Linked DNA regions of Homo sapiens. The protein of the gene in region 1 interacts with the protein of each later gene in a biochemical or structural test. Each region holds a gene or a part of one and is shown on either strand. Other genes may lie near its edges. The genes, in order: ERG, USP9X and KDM4A.

The links.
Region 2: of the proteins of ERG (region 1) and USP9X, one has a biochemical effect on the other in vitro, tested with the Homo sapiens proteins (2 studies listed by BioGRID, with this or other methods).
Region 3: the proteins of ERG (region 1) and KDM4A form a complex in vitro, tested with the Homo sapiens proteins (one study listed by IntAct).

What each region holds. Positions count from the first base shown.
Region 1 is NC_000021.9:38,491,727-38,495,478, forward strand, and holds part of ERG (transcriptional regulator ERG), read right to left. Parts: intron 1-3,752. UniProt on the Homo sapiens protein: Transcriptional regulator. May participate in transcriptional regulation through the recruitment of SETDB1 histone methyltransferase and subsequent modification of local chromatin structure.
Region 2 is NC_000023.11:41,228,397-41,232,148, forward strand, and holds part of USP9X (ubiquitin carboxyl-terminal hydrolase 9X), read left to right. Parts: intron 1-856; coding exon 857-1,013; intron 1,014-1,170; coding exon 1,171-1,383; coding exon of another isoform or gene 1,384-1,431; intron 1,432-2,104; coding exon 2,105-2,200; intron 2,201-3,752.
Region 3 is NC_000001.11:43,648,002-43,651,753, reverse strand, and holds the start of KDM4A (lysine-specific demethylase 4A), read right to left. Parts: upstream 1,606-3,752; 5' UTR 1,502-1,605; intron 1-1,501. UniProt on the Homo sapiens protein: Histone demethylase that specifically demethylates 'Lys-9' and 'Lys-36' residues of histone H3, thereby playing a central role in histone code. Does not demethylate histone H3 'Lys-4', H3 'Lys-27' nor H4 'Lys-20'.

The DNA.
Region 1 (3,752 bases):
AACTCTGACCTGCGTGTTCATTATTGACGCCCAAGACGAGTGCAAGGAAGTTGATACTTGGGATGAGGAAATTTAAATCAGCAGCTGATCTGGAATCTGGAAGCACTGCCCCTTGGATCTCGCCAAATATGGAAAGAATTCTTGTCACTGAGCAAATATAGAATTCAGTGCTAGAGTTTTACCTCTTGAATTTTCTAGAACTTTGTTTTGATTAGCCACCTAGAGTATAAGAATTGCTGCCTATGGGATTTTTCCCAGAAGAGTAGATAACATAAAGTAACCAGCGATAATAATTTTCATTATCCAATTATTTCATGTGTCTCCATAACACTTAATACATCATGTTTCTCTGCACAGTAATTCACTATGTACAGCTAGGGTGAATAGCAGGAAAAAAGAGATCAGATGATAAAGAGAAGGGAGACAGATTTGTGTGACTTGTATAAGATACTTCGCCTCTCTAATCCTTTGTCCTTATCTGTAAGAAAGCAGCAGTACCCAGGCTGCTGTGAGGATCACATGAGACATTATGAGAGTTTAGCACAGGACTTGGCACATAACAAGCAGTTATTAGGATGATGTTAGTTTGGATTATGAATTCAAGATACTACAGCTACATTTTTTATACTTTCTTAAACATCAATTTAAGTCAATTTTAATTAACGTTATTTTACTAGGAGAAATGTCTCTAAAAACATAAGAATTCTATTTGAAGTCTACAATGATAATTACATTACTCTGATATCTTAACTTCCTCTTTATGATTTCAAATAATTAAAATTTAAGTTTATGTTTTCAACAAGTGCTTATTGAACCTCTACTCTTTGCCAGTCACTGTTGAGGACACAGAAGAAATGGATAAGATATCACTAAAAACAGCTTCTGCGATATCAGTGGGTATACATAAATTATTCACACTCAACAACAAACACAAGCAAAGCTGGGAGAATGTGCTGACAGGAAAGAAAATGAAGAGTGGGAGAGTGGACAGATGGGAATCGATGTGAAATTTTATAAAACATGTCTTGGCCAAGCTCAGTAGGGGAAATATGTGGAAAGTAAGCTAGACCAAACAGAGAATAAAAGTATAAATAAGAAAAAAAATCCAGAGGTCACAGTGGACCACTAGCCAAAATGGGTTCACAGCAAACAAACAAAAAAATGTAATGAAATACTAAAATTAAAGAAGTACAAATAAAAATGAGATTCTGTTCTTATCTGTCAGAATGGCAAAGATTCAAAGAGTAAAATATTCAGAGTTGTTATGGGTGTAGTGTGGAACTGGTCTCATATGTGGCTAGAAAAAGGGAGAACTGGTATAATCCTTCCAGAGAATAATCTGGTAATTATTTTTTAAATTGGCAAATATTTAAATTTGGCAAAGACTTAAAAAATATATATACCCATTGGCTCAATAATTCCTTTCTAGGCACCAATACTAATAAAAAGTATTCAAAAAATTAAATAGATGGTGTACTGCAATATAATGAGTGAAACATCGCAAGCAGCATCACTTTATACACTAGGATATTGGTTATAAAATGGTAATACATATTTTAGATAGAATATAATGAAACAAAAATTTTGCTTATCAAAAAATGTTAGTAACATGGGAAAATGCTTGTAAAACAATGCTAACTGAGAAGAGCAGGACAGGTAGGTAGATACAAGGCCAAACAGATACACACGGTGGAGAGACATATCCCAATTGTTAGGAATTTGCTGTGGTTGGTTAGGATCTGAACAATTTATATTGACTTTGTGATGACTTTTAAACGTTTTCTCTACCATAAGAATTTTTTATGTTTATAATTTATGCTAAAGAACAAGATGTATTTTTTGTAATTCAGGAGTAAAGAGGAGAGTGGGGTATTCCAGGGTGCTGTTCCTGCCCTAACCAGGAGCACGATGCAGTCATAGGCCTCTGCCCTCCTCCAGCAGCCTCGGCTCAGAACAGGACGAAGCCAACCCTCTCTGACCAGCACCACCTCGGGCGACCCCTGGACGCTCCACCTGCCCCTGTGTGTGGTACCTGCCCTGCTACACCTTTAACAAGCACCCCTGCAAGCTCCCTCCTCCTTCCTTCCCTGTCCTGTGGCTGCCCAGACCCAGATGTACCCTGCCTGGGTGTGGGAGGCCGCACATCAGAGCAGTCTATGGCTGTGGGCTTCACAGCTGAAGCTGGGCCGTGGGAAATGTTGAGACGAGTGAGTGCAGAGCCTGAAAGACAATACGGTAGAAAAGGTTACATCCGCGGGGGGGCGTCTGATGGCATCTGCCATTTATTGAGGATGGGTGCGAGACAGGGTAGCCATTATGATCCCATTTTACAGGTGACGAAACTGAGATCAGACAGGCTAGCTACCTTGCCCAGGGTCACAACAGGAAGGAAGCAAATGCAAGTGTGTCTGCGGCCACGTAAGGTGAGAGAAGCGCTATCAGGGGTGGTCTGACAGAATCCCCAGGCCAGGGAGCAGTTGTCCTCTATCCTGTGGGGTCAAAGGAGGGGACAAGAAGGCTCTCCTTGAGGTAGCTCCAAAGAAAAGACCCCGCCAGAGCACAGTGTGCTACCAAACGCTGGAACAGCCTGGAGACTGTCCCTGTCTCTTCTCTGAGGTTTCTCATTTCAGAGAAACTCTCATCCGTCTGGCTTCCCCATGGCCCTTACTCTGTGATTCTCTTATGTATCAGCTGTTAAACCAATAAATCCGCCAAATTGTTGGGATGCCTATAATGGCTTTGGGTCTCCACTCCCACAGAGGGAATCTTATTCTAAAGTTCTAAATGTATCAGTCATATTTTCCTGAAGACAACAGAAATGGTTGTTTCATTTACTTATTTTTATGTATGCTTTTTCAAGAGTTGTTAACCTGTGTTTGTGTTTAAATAAAGATCTGTTTTGCAAAACAAAAACTTTATGAGATAATCACTTATAAACGTAGATAATTAAGAAATGGTTCAGGCTCAGCACATTGTCTGAGAGCATTGCAGTCCTGCACTGTATTTCATGGGGGAAGAAAAGCCCACAGATGGAGCCATTCTCAATCCTGCTTTCCAGGGTCACTGAGTCAGGGTGCCTGGCATGCATGGGTGCATGCACACACAGGCAGAGGGCCAGGGAGAACTGTGCTGTGTCCACAGAGGGCAGCCTGGATCACAGAGCTGACCAAGAACGGAAGCAGCAAGTTGTTTTAAAGTAGTTGCCTGTAAAGCCACTTTTCGGCAAGGACAAACACTCAGAGCATGCTCTGAAATGACTTATGCACAGCAGGGCAGCGGCATTTTGCCCCTGGCCTTCCTTCCATTCTCCCGGAATCCCCCTAAAGTAACAAGGACTGACGCAATTCGTATTTCACTTAGCCAACAGGTTGATGAAAAATCATAAATCTGTAGCTATTAAACTCATTAATCACATCCATCAAAATTCTGTGAGGAGTTAACTTTCTTCATATAACTCTTAGTCTTAATTAAGTTTCCCTCACATGTGATAGCAAACGTTCAAGAAGTGCAAATGTGCAGACGTGGCGTATATAATGCAAGCTTTATGTCTTTAAATTAATAAAATTGAGTCCTATCAGGTCGTGTTTCAATTACCATCAAACCTTCCAACCTCTGTTAATTCAAAAAAAAGTAACTTCTTTAGGCAAGTCATGGAAATAGCACTAGGGTGCCCTCAGGTCTCCACCAAGCCTTGTTAGTAACTTTCCATGTCCTGTCTGATTTTTAAGATGCTTTCCCCTGATGCTGCTGCC
Region 2 (3,752 bases), on another chromosome or scaffold:
GTAGTTTGGGAGAAACTGAAATGAAATCCTGTGTTATTGGCAAATCAGCCAAATTGTACTATTGCCTGTCAAAATGCTTTGCCTGCCATGTATTCTCATTATTAGAATTCAAATACTGTACCTCCAAATTATGTCACTGAATCCTAACTTGCCTTCAGAGATGCAGTTTTATAAAAGGTATTGATGTGTAGCAAATTACCCTCAACTACAGCAGTCATAAACTTAGTTATAACTTTTTTAAAGTTTGCATTACTCTCGAGTGTCCTGAATTCACTTCAGGTAATGTGTTTAAATTACATATATGGCAGAATTATTTTGGACTGGTAATAAGTTAGTAAGAGCACAGACTCTGGAGTCACACTGCTCCGCAGCTATATGACCTCGGCAAGCTGTGTAACTCTGTGCCAATTTTCTCACCTGTTAAAAGTTTTAATAATAAGGCCAGGCGCAGTGGCTCATGCCTGTAATCCCAGCACTTTGGGAGGCCGAGGCAGGCGGATCACGAGGTCAGGAGATTGAGACCATCCTGGCTAACACGGTGAAACCCCGTCTCTACTAAAAATACAAAAAATTAGCTGGGCGTGGTGGCACGTGCCTGTAGTTGGGCTGAGGCAGGAGAGAGGCGTGAACCTGGGAGGCAGGACTTGAAGTAAGCCGAGATGGCGCCACTGCACTCCAGCCCAGGCCGTCTCAAAAAAAATAAATAAATAAAAAATAAAGGTTTAATAATAGTACCTATTGTCTAATGTTAGATTAAATGACTAAAAGACATTATTGAGTGGCACATAGTAGGCACTCAGTATATATTAGCTATTAGATTTTAGATGTTTTTATTTTATATCTGGTTCTCTTTCAGAATTCATAATGCACTGAAAGGAATTCCAGATGACCGAGATGGGCTGTTTGACACAATCCAGCGCTCTAAGAATCACTATCAAAAAAGAGCATACCAGTGTATAAAATGTATGGTAGCTCTATTTAGTAACTGTCCTGTTGCTTACCAAATCCTGCAGGTGAGGATTTTTTTCTTATAATTTTGTAGAAATCTTAATCAGAATTAAGGATTCTGTTTTAAAAGAAGAGAATCATGAGAACTTGGGGTTGTCATTTTAAGTTAACTTTGAAGTATTCCAAATCCTCTTATCTATATGGTTTTATTTTCTTTTGCAGGGCAATGGAGATCTTAAAAGAAAGTGGACCTGGGCAGTGGAATGGCTTGGAGATGAACTTGAAAGAAGACCATATACTGGCAATCCTCAGTACACTTACAACAATTGGTCTCCCCCAGTGCAAAGCAATGAAACGTCCAATGGTTATTTCTTGGAGAGATCACATAGTGCTAGGATGACACTTGCAAAAGCTTGTGAACTCTGTCCAGAGGAGGTAAAAAAAGCCACCAGTGTGCAGCAGATAGAAATGGAAGAGAGCAAAGTAATTCTTTATTTTATAGGCCAGTGTTTATGTATTAATGATATTATTAAAAGATTATGTTGAAGTTTTGGGTTTTGAAAAATGTTTATTCGGCTGGGCATGGTGGCTCACGCCTGTAATCCCAACACTTTGGGAGGCCGAGGCAGGCGGATCACCTGAGGTCAGGAGTTCAAGACCAGCCTGGCCAACAAGGTGAAATCCCATCTCCACTAAAAATAGAAAAATTAGTCGGGCGTGGTGGCAGGCGCCTGTAATCTCAGCTACTTGGGAGGCTGAGGCTGGAGAATGACTTGAACCCAGGAGGCACAGATTGCAGTGAGCGGAGATCGTGCCAGTGGGCTCCAGCTTGGGTGACAAGAGTGAAACTCCATCTCAAAAAAAGAAAAGAAAAGAATGTTTATTCTATGTCATTTTAAGCTAATGAAGGGAGCTTTCTTTTGGAGAAATTTCTGTGAAATTGCCTGAAATGTAGTAGTTCTGAGAGAATGCAAATCAGGTTTTTTGTTTTGTTTTTTTTTTTTTTGTTTTTTCCCCAAGTTCTTTATCTGCAGTAAAAGAAAAGTTGCTAATGGGTCAGTTTTGTAGATTTTTAAAATTTATTTCAAATAGAAAAAGTTAAAAGTAAACTTGAGTTTGCCTACGTAATTTTTTATCTTGAAATATTCAAAATTAGGAGCCAGATGACCAAGATGCTCCAGATGAACATGAGTCGCCTCCACCTGAAGATGCCCCATTGTACCCCCATTCACCTGGATCTCAGTATCAACAGGTAAACAGGAGTCAGTTTATGCTTTTATCCCCTAGAACTGGGTTTTATGCTTAATTTTAGAGGATGGCTCAATTGTTTGTTGTGACTACAAAGTAAGAAGTAGGATTATCTAGACTAGCTTTGGGAGCATGATCCAGAAGAGGGATGGTTTGGAGTGGGGGTCATGGTGTAACATGTTTGAACTTAACCACTGTAGGGTTTTCCTTGTCAAGAAGGTGTCCTTCTTGTGCTAGTAGTTAATAAAACTGTATGAGAATTTATATCAACATAAAATGATCATTGTTTAGTGCAAAGGATTGTGGTGACATTTCCGGTGAGGTAAAATCTTCACCTGGATTCCAAAAACATTATTAAGATATGGCAATGAAGTAAGAAGTCCTTGGTTACTTAGCCACAGGTTTCAGTGATGGTAAAAATCACTGGAAAAAAAAGGATTTGGGTAGATTTCCATAGGTGATTAAAGTAAATAAACTAGTAAATAGCAAAAGAAATGAGATGAAGAAACATTCTAAATGATAACTTTTTCTTTCTGAAACCAAAATGTGACTAAATCAGCTCTTGTGAGGCAGTGGTACTCAAACTTGCACAGGCGTGAGTCTCCCTGGAAGGGTTGCTCCAGCAGAGAGCTAGATGCTACCCTAAAGTGTCTTATTTCATAGGTCTTCAAGGGGCTGGAAAATGTACATTTCTAGCAAGTTCCCAAGTGATGCTGCTGGTGGTCCAGGAACCATACTTGGAGAAACATTTCAGGCATTCTTTCTTACATTTCACTGTGTACATAGAAGCAAACTGAATAGTTAGGAAGTACACATTCAGCGTACTTATTTTCATCTATAGAAAGTAAAGCCTGGCCAGGCGCGGTAGCTCATGCCTGTAATCCCAACACTTTGGAAGGCTGAGGCAGGTGGATCACCTGAGGTCAGGAGTTTGAGACCAGCCTGACCAACATGGAGAAGCCCTGTCTCTACTAAAAATACAAAATTAGCCGGGTATGGTGGTGGCGCATGCCTGTAATCCCAGCTACTCAGGAGGCTGAGGCAAGAGAATCTCTTGAACCCAGGAGGCAGAGGTGGTGGTGAGTCGAGATAGCACCATTGCACTCCAGCCTGGGCAACAAGAGCGAAACTCCCATCTCAAAAAAAAAAAAAAAAAAGTTAAGCCTAAAATCTTGGCTTGGCTGATGGAGCATGTACAGAAAAATGAGAGCACTGTAGGGTTCAGACATTTTAAAAGGTTAAGGAACCAAATCCACAAGGAAGGTTAACTTCCTTTGACCCTGAGAAAGCTCTTATGTTAATCATGCCTGGTTACTTTATCATCTTGAACATTGTTCTGTTTTTAATCAGCATTATTGTGAGTTCAGGGTTACTGCTCCTATATATCTTACATCATGGTTAGTCAATCGGATTTAGCATGTGGAAGAGTCAATAGATGCTCATAGATCATTCTCTGAAAATTTTTTACCAAGAGCAACAGTGGGTTAATCCTTTATTTGCCAGACTTGAGTCTAAATAATTTTTGGCACTAAAAATCACTTTGGCCAAAGATTTAT
Region 3 (3,752 bases), on another chromosome or scaffold:
AACTGAAAAAAGACAAAGCATATCAATGAAAATAGGCCATTCTAGAAGGAACACCAGTATGTCCTTTCCTTTACCCACCCTCCTCACTGAGGGTCCAGCAGTTCCGTACCCCCTATCTGGGGCCCAAAGGTATGGCGGTTCAGCTCCAAGACTCTCTTTGAGAGTTGGAGAGCTCAGAAAGGAGAAAAGCGCCTCCAATCCACCAGAAATCTAGTTACAGGCCTGGGAGCAGAACACGGAGCACAACTGTGTAAGGTAGGAGAGAAGGCAAATCCAGTTACCCGTATCTCCTAGGCTTCCTATCAAAAATAAGGCGTGTTTCTAAACAGGCGCTTTTCATGAACCTGGCAGAAACTTTGCATGGCAGGTATACTGTTCTCCCTGTTTTACATACCAGGAAATTTGCCCACAGCCCACTCTTAAGTGCACCTTCCACTGCTCTATACTGCTTACATACTCATCTCCACCTGGACTAAGTCCTCTGCAAGGGCAGCTCCAAGTGTGGAGAAACCCGAAGTTTATTTAATTTTGAAGACCCTCTTAAAAAGAAAAATGAATCCAAAATATCTTACTTTTGCACATTTTATAAAAACATACAATCATGTGAATACAATGTTGGGGCCCTTCCCCGGGCCTTCAAAGGGGCCCTAATGGGCTTCATCAGCCTCTGCCCCTATTCATCTTTGTATGCCTAGAACAATGCATGGCACAGAGTAGGCAATCGGTAACTGTTGAAAAACTGATTTCCTCACCCTCACCTCAATTGTTCATCCCTTCTTCAACCCTAGGATTCCCTTCCCCCAAATCTGTTCCCTGGGGAAAGCTCCCGTTTCATGACACCTTCCCTCCCAATCAGTAACAAAGCCTAGAGATTCAAGAACACCGGCTCCGAAGTCAAAACTCTGAATACAGATCCGGTCTCTGCCGTTTATTAGCTATGTGACCTTGGCTGTGTGAGCTGACTTGAGTCTCAGTTTCTCCACCTGTAAAATGGGGATCCCAACCCCCTGCCCTGCAGGGTCGCTGTGATTAGCTCAGATGATGCAAGCGAAGCACTAAGCACTAGGCCCGGTACTTACCCACTCAATAAAGCTAGCTGTTGCTAACAACCCCCTCGGACTCCCGCACCCTTCCCTCGCAGCCGCTCCCGCGAGCATCACTCCAAAGGCAGCGCACCCTGCTCCCCACCGTCCCCGAACCTCACCGCGCACAGGTTCGGCCCCTCCCGGCCCCGCCGCCTTGGCGAGTGAAGCTCGGCCGCAGGAAGAAGAAAATAAGGCCCAGATGACCCGCCCCCCTCTCCCGAGGTCCATTGGCCTTGAAGATTGGAAAGGACCAATCTCAGAACCCATTCTGGAAGCTCCTTCTCCTATTGGCCGAGAAACATGCCGATCACTCACCGCTGGAAGACCCACCCCCACCGCCCCTCCCCCACCAAAACTCACGGTCACTGCTACAGCGGCAATGATCCTCGAGAATTCCAAAACCCTATAGTTCTCACCTACAGCCCAAAGCCCCGCCAGGGCTTAGGCTCAGCTCCTGCTGTCGCCACTGGCCGATCCTACTGCTTTTCCAGCAGGCGAAGGCCGAAACTCCGCCTCCTCTAAAGTCGGCATCTGCGCAGCCGTACAGAGTCAACCAATTCAAGGGTGGCTGCAAGCCATACACCAGCCAATGAGCACGCGCCGCAGCCACCTCCCAGTCCCGACCTCAGTGTGCTCAGCCTATGAGCGCCGGCTCGGGCTGTTGCCGGGAGGAAACGCTGTACCACTAGGGACCGCGGCCAGTGAGCCTCTAGCTGGATCGCGAAGCTGGCCAATCATAGGCGGGCTCCTGGTCACCCATAACTAATCAGGGTTGAAAGAAGCTAGTACCTGGAAGTGGGCCGGTCCGGTAGATGGGTAAGGGCGGTGAGGTTACTATAGGATGTCGCTAACGAAAGGATAGGCCAAAGTTTTCTTGGGATGAGTATCCTCTTTGCCTAACGTGGAAATGTGTCGGGGCCCTTAGGGGCAGCTTCCGAGCTCAGGGAGTGCTGAAAAGATGACCGTCTTGTCCCGGTTTGTCCTGGGTGTCTCGGTTTTCAAAACAAAATCCCGTGGCCTTGGAAACCCCTCATTCGCTGTCAAGCCTGAACAGGGAAGGGAAGCTGCCCTGAGGGTCATTAGGACAGACCATGAGGGAGGCTCTCCTTAGGGTCATTAAAAAGCAATTCCTGGCCGGGCGTGGTCCCTCACGCCTGTAATCCCAGCACTTTGGGAGGCCGAGGCGGGCGGGTCACCTGAAGTCGGCAGTTTGAGACCGCCTGACCAACATGGAGAAACCCCGTCTCTACTCAAAAAAAAAATACAAAATTAGCCGGGCGTGGTGTTGCATGCCTGTAGTCCCAGCTACTCCGGAGGTTGAGGCAGGAGAATCGCTTGAACCCGGGAGGCGGAGGTTGCGGTGGGCCGAGATCGCGCCATTGCACTCCAACCTGGGCAACAAGAGTGAAACTCCGTCTAAAAAAAAAAAAAAAAAAAAAAAAGCAGTTCCTCAGTGAGCGGGGATTTGGGGGATCATTAGGAGCAGCTCTTGGGGCGGAGAGGGGGGCATCCTGGGAATCAGAAGAGGCACTTCTGGAGGGCGAGGGGGCTTCCTAGAAGTCATTAGGAGCGGTTCCTGAGGGGTAGTGAGTCGCCTTAAGGAATTCCCAGATTGTCAAGGGTAGTGGGGAAGGTCAAGTAGGAAAGTAAAATACCCACAACCAGAGTCATAAAAAAATATACAGAATTACCATGGATGAATAATGGGGTAGTGCCCTGGAAAGAGCTATATGGAGTCAGGCCTGTGTTCAAAACTAGTAACTTCTCTGAGCCTGGGAGTTCACATCAATAAAATGGAAAAAATAATGCCTTGCAAATTTTGTAAAGATGAGAGTTAATGAATGTTGGCAAAAAGAACATATTTCATAGAATGCTATGGACCAATCATGATTTATGCCTCAGGCTGGGTACATGCCTACTGAAAAAAAAATCTTTAAAAAAAATAGTTTCAAAAACAGAAATGACTGTTTCAAAAAGAATGGCCGTTGGCTACGCAGCCACAAGTCTTTCACAATAGGGGTTTTTGCCCTTACCCAGTAAGGTAATCGACAGTATTAGATAATAGATTATACTGAGTGGCTCACAAAAGTGCCGAGTCTGAAGAATCCAACTTGCAGGACACATAAAGAAAACCCAAATCCTGCGGTAGAATTCATCCACCACTGTCTTTCCTGCTGCCACTAAGCACAAGATACTGCAGGTTGCTTCACAGACTCCACTGTCCTGGACATGGATACAGTCGCTAGTTACTGTTACTGTGTTCCATAAACTGGATTTTGCTGTATTTCCTGGTGCTGCCAGATGATTTCCAAGGGCCCTCTACTGTGTATCACTAGCTTCCAATTGGTATGTGCATGTGATAGGTGGAGCCTAAATCAAGTTCTCGTGATATGCTCCCATTTTTCTGACCAGTTTTCCTGTTTCCTTTTTAAGCTCACCTTTCCCTTTGCACACTTTTTGTTTGTTTGCTTGCTTTTTTGTTTTTTTGTTTTTGAGACGGAGTTTCGTTCTTGTTGCCCAGGCACGATCTCGGCTCACTGCCACCTCCGCCTCCCAGGTTCAAATGATTCTCCTGCCTCAGCCTCCTGAGTAGCTGGGATTACAGGCGCCCGCCACCACACCCGGCTAATTTTTTTTGTATTTTTAGTAGAGACAGGGTTTCATCAT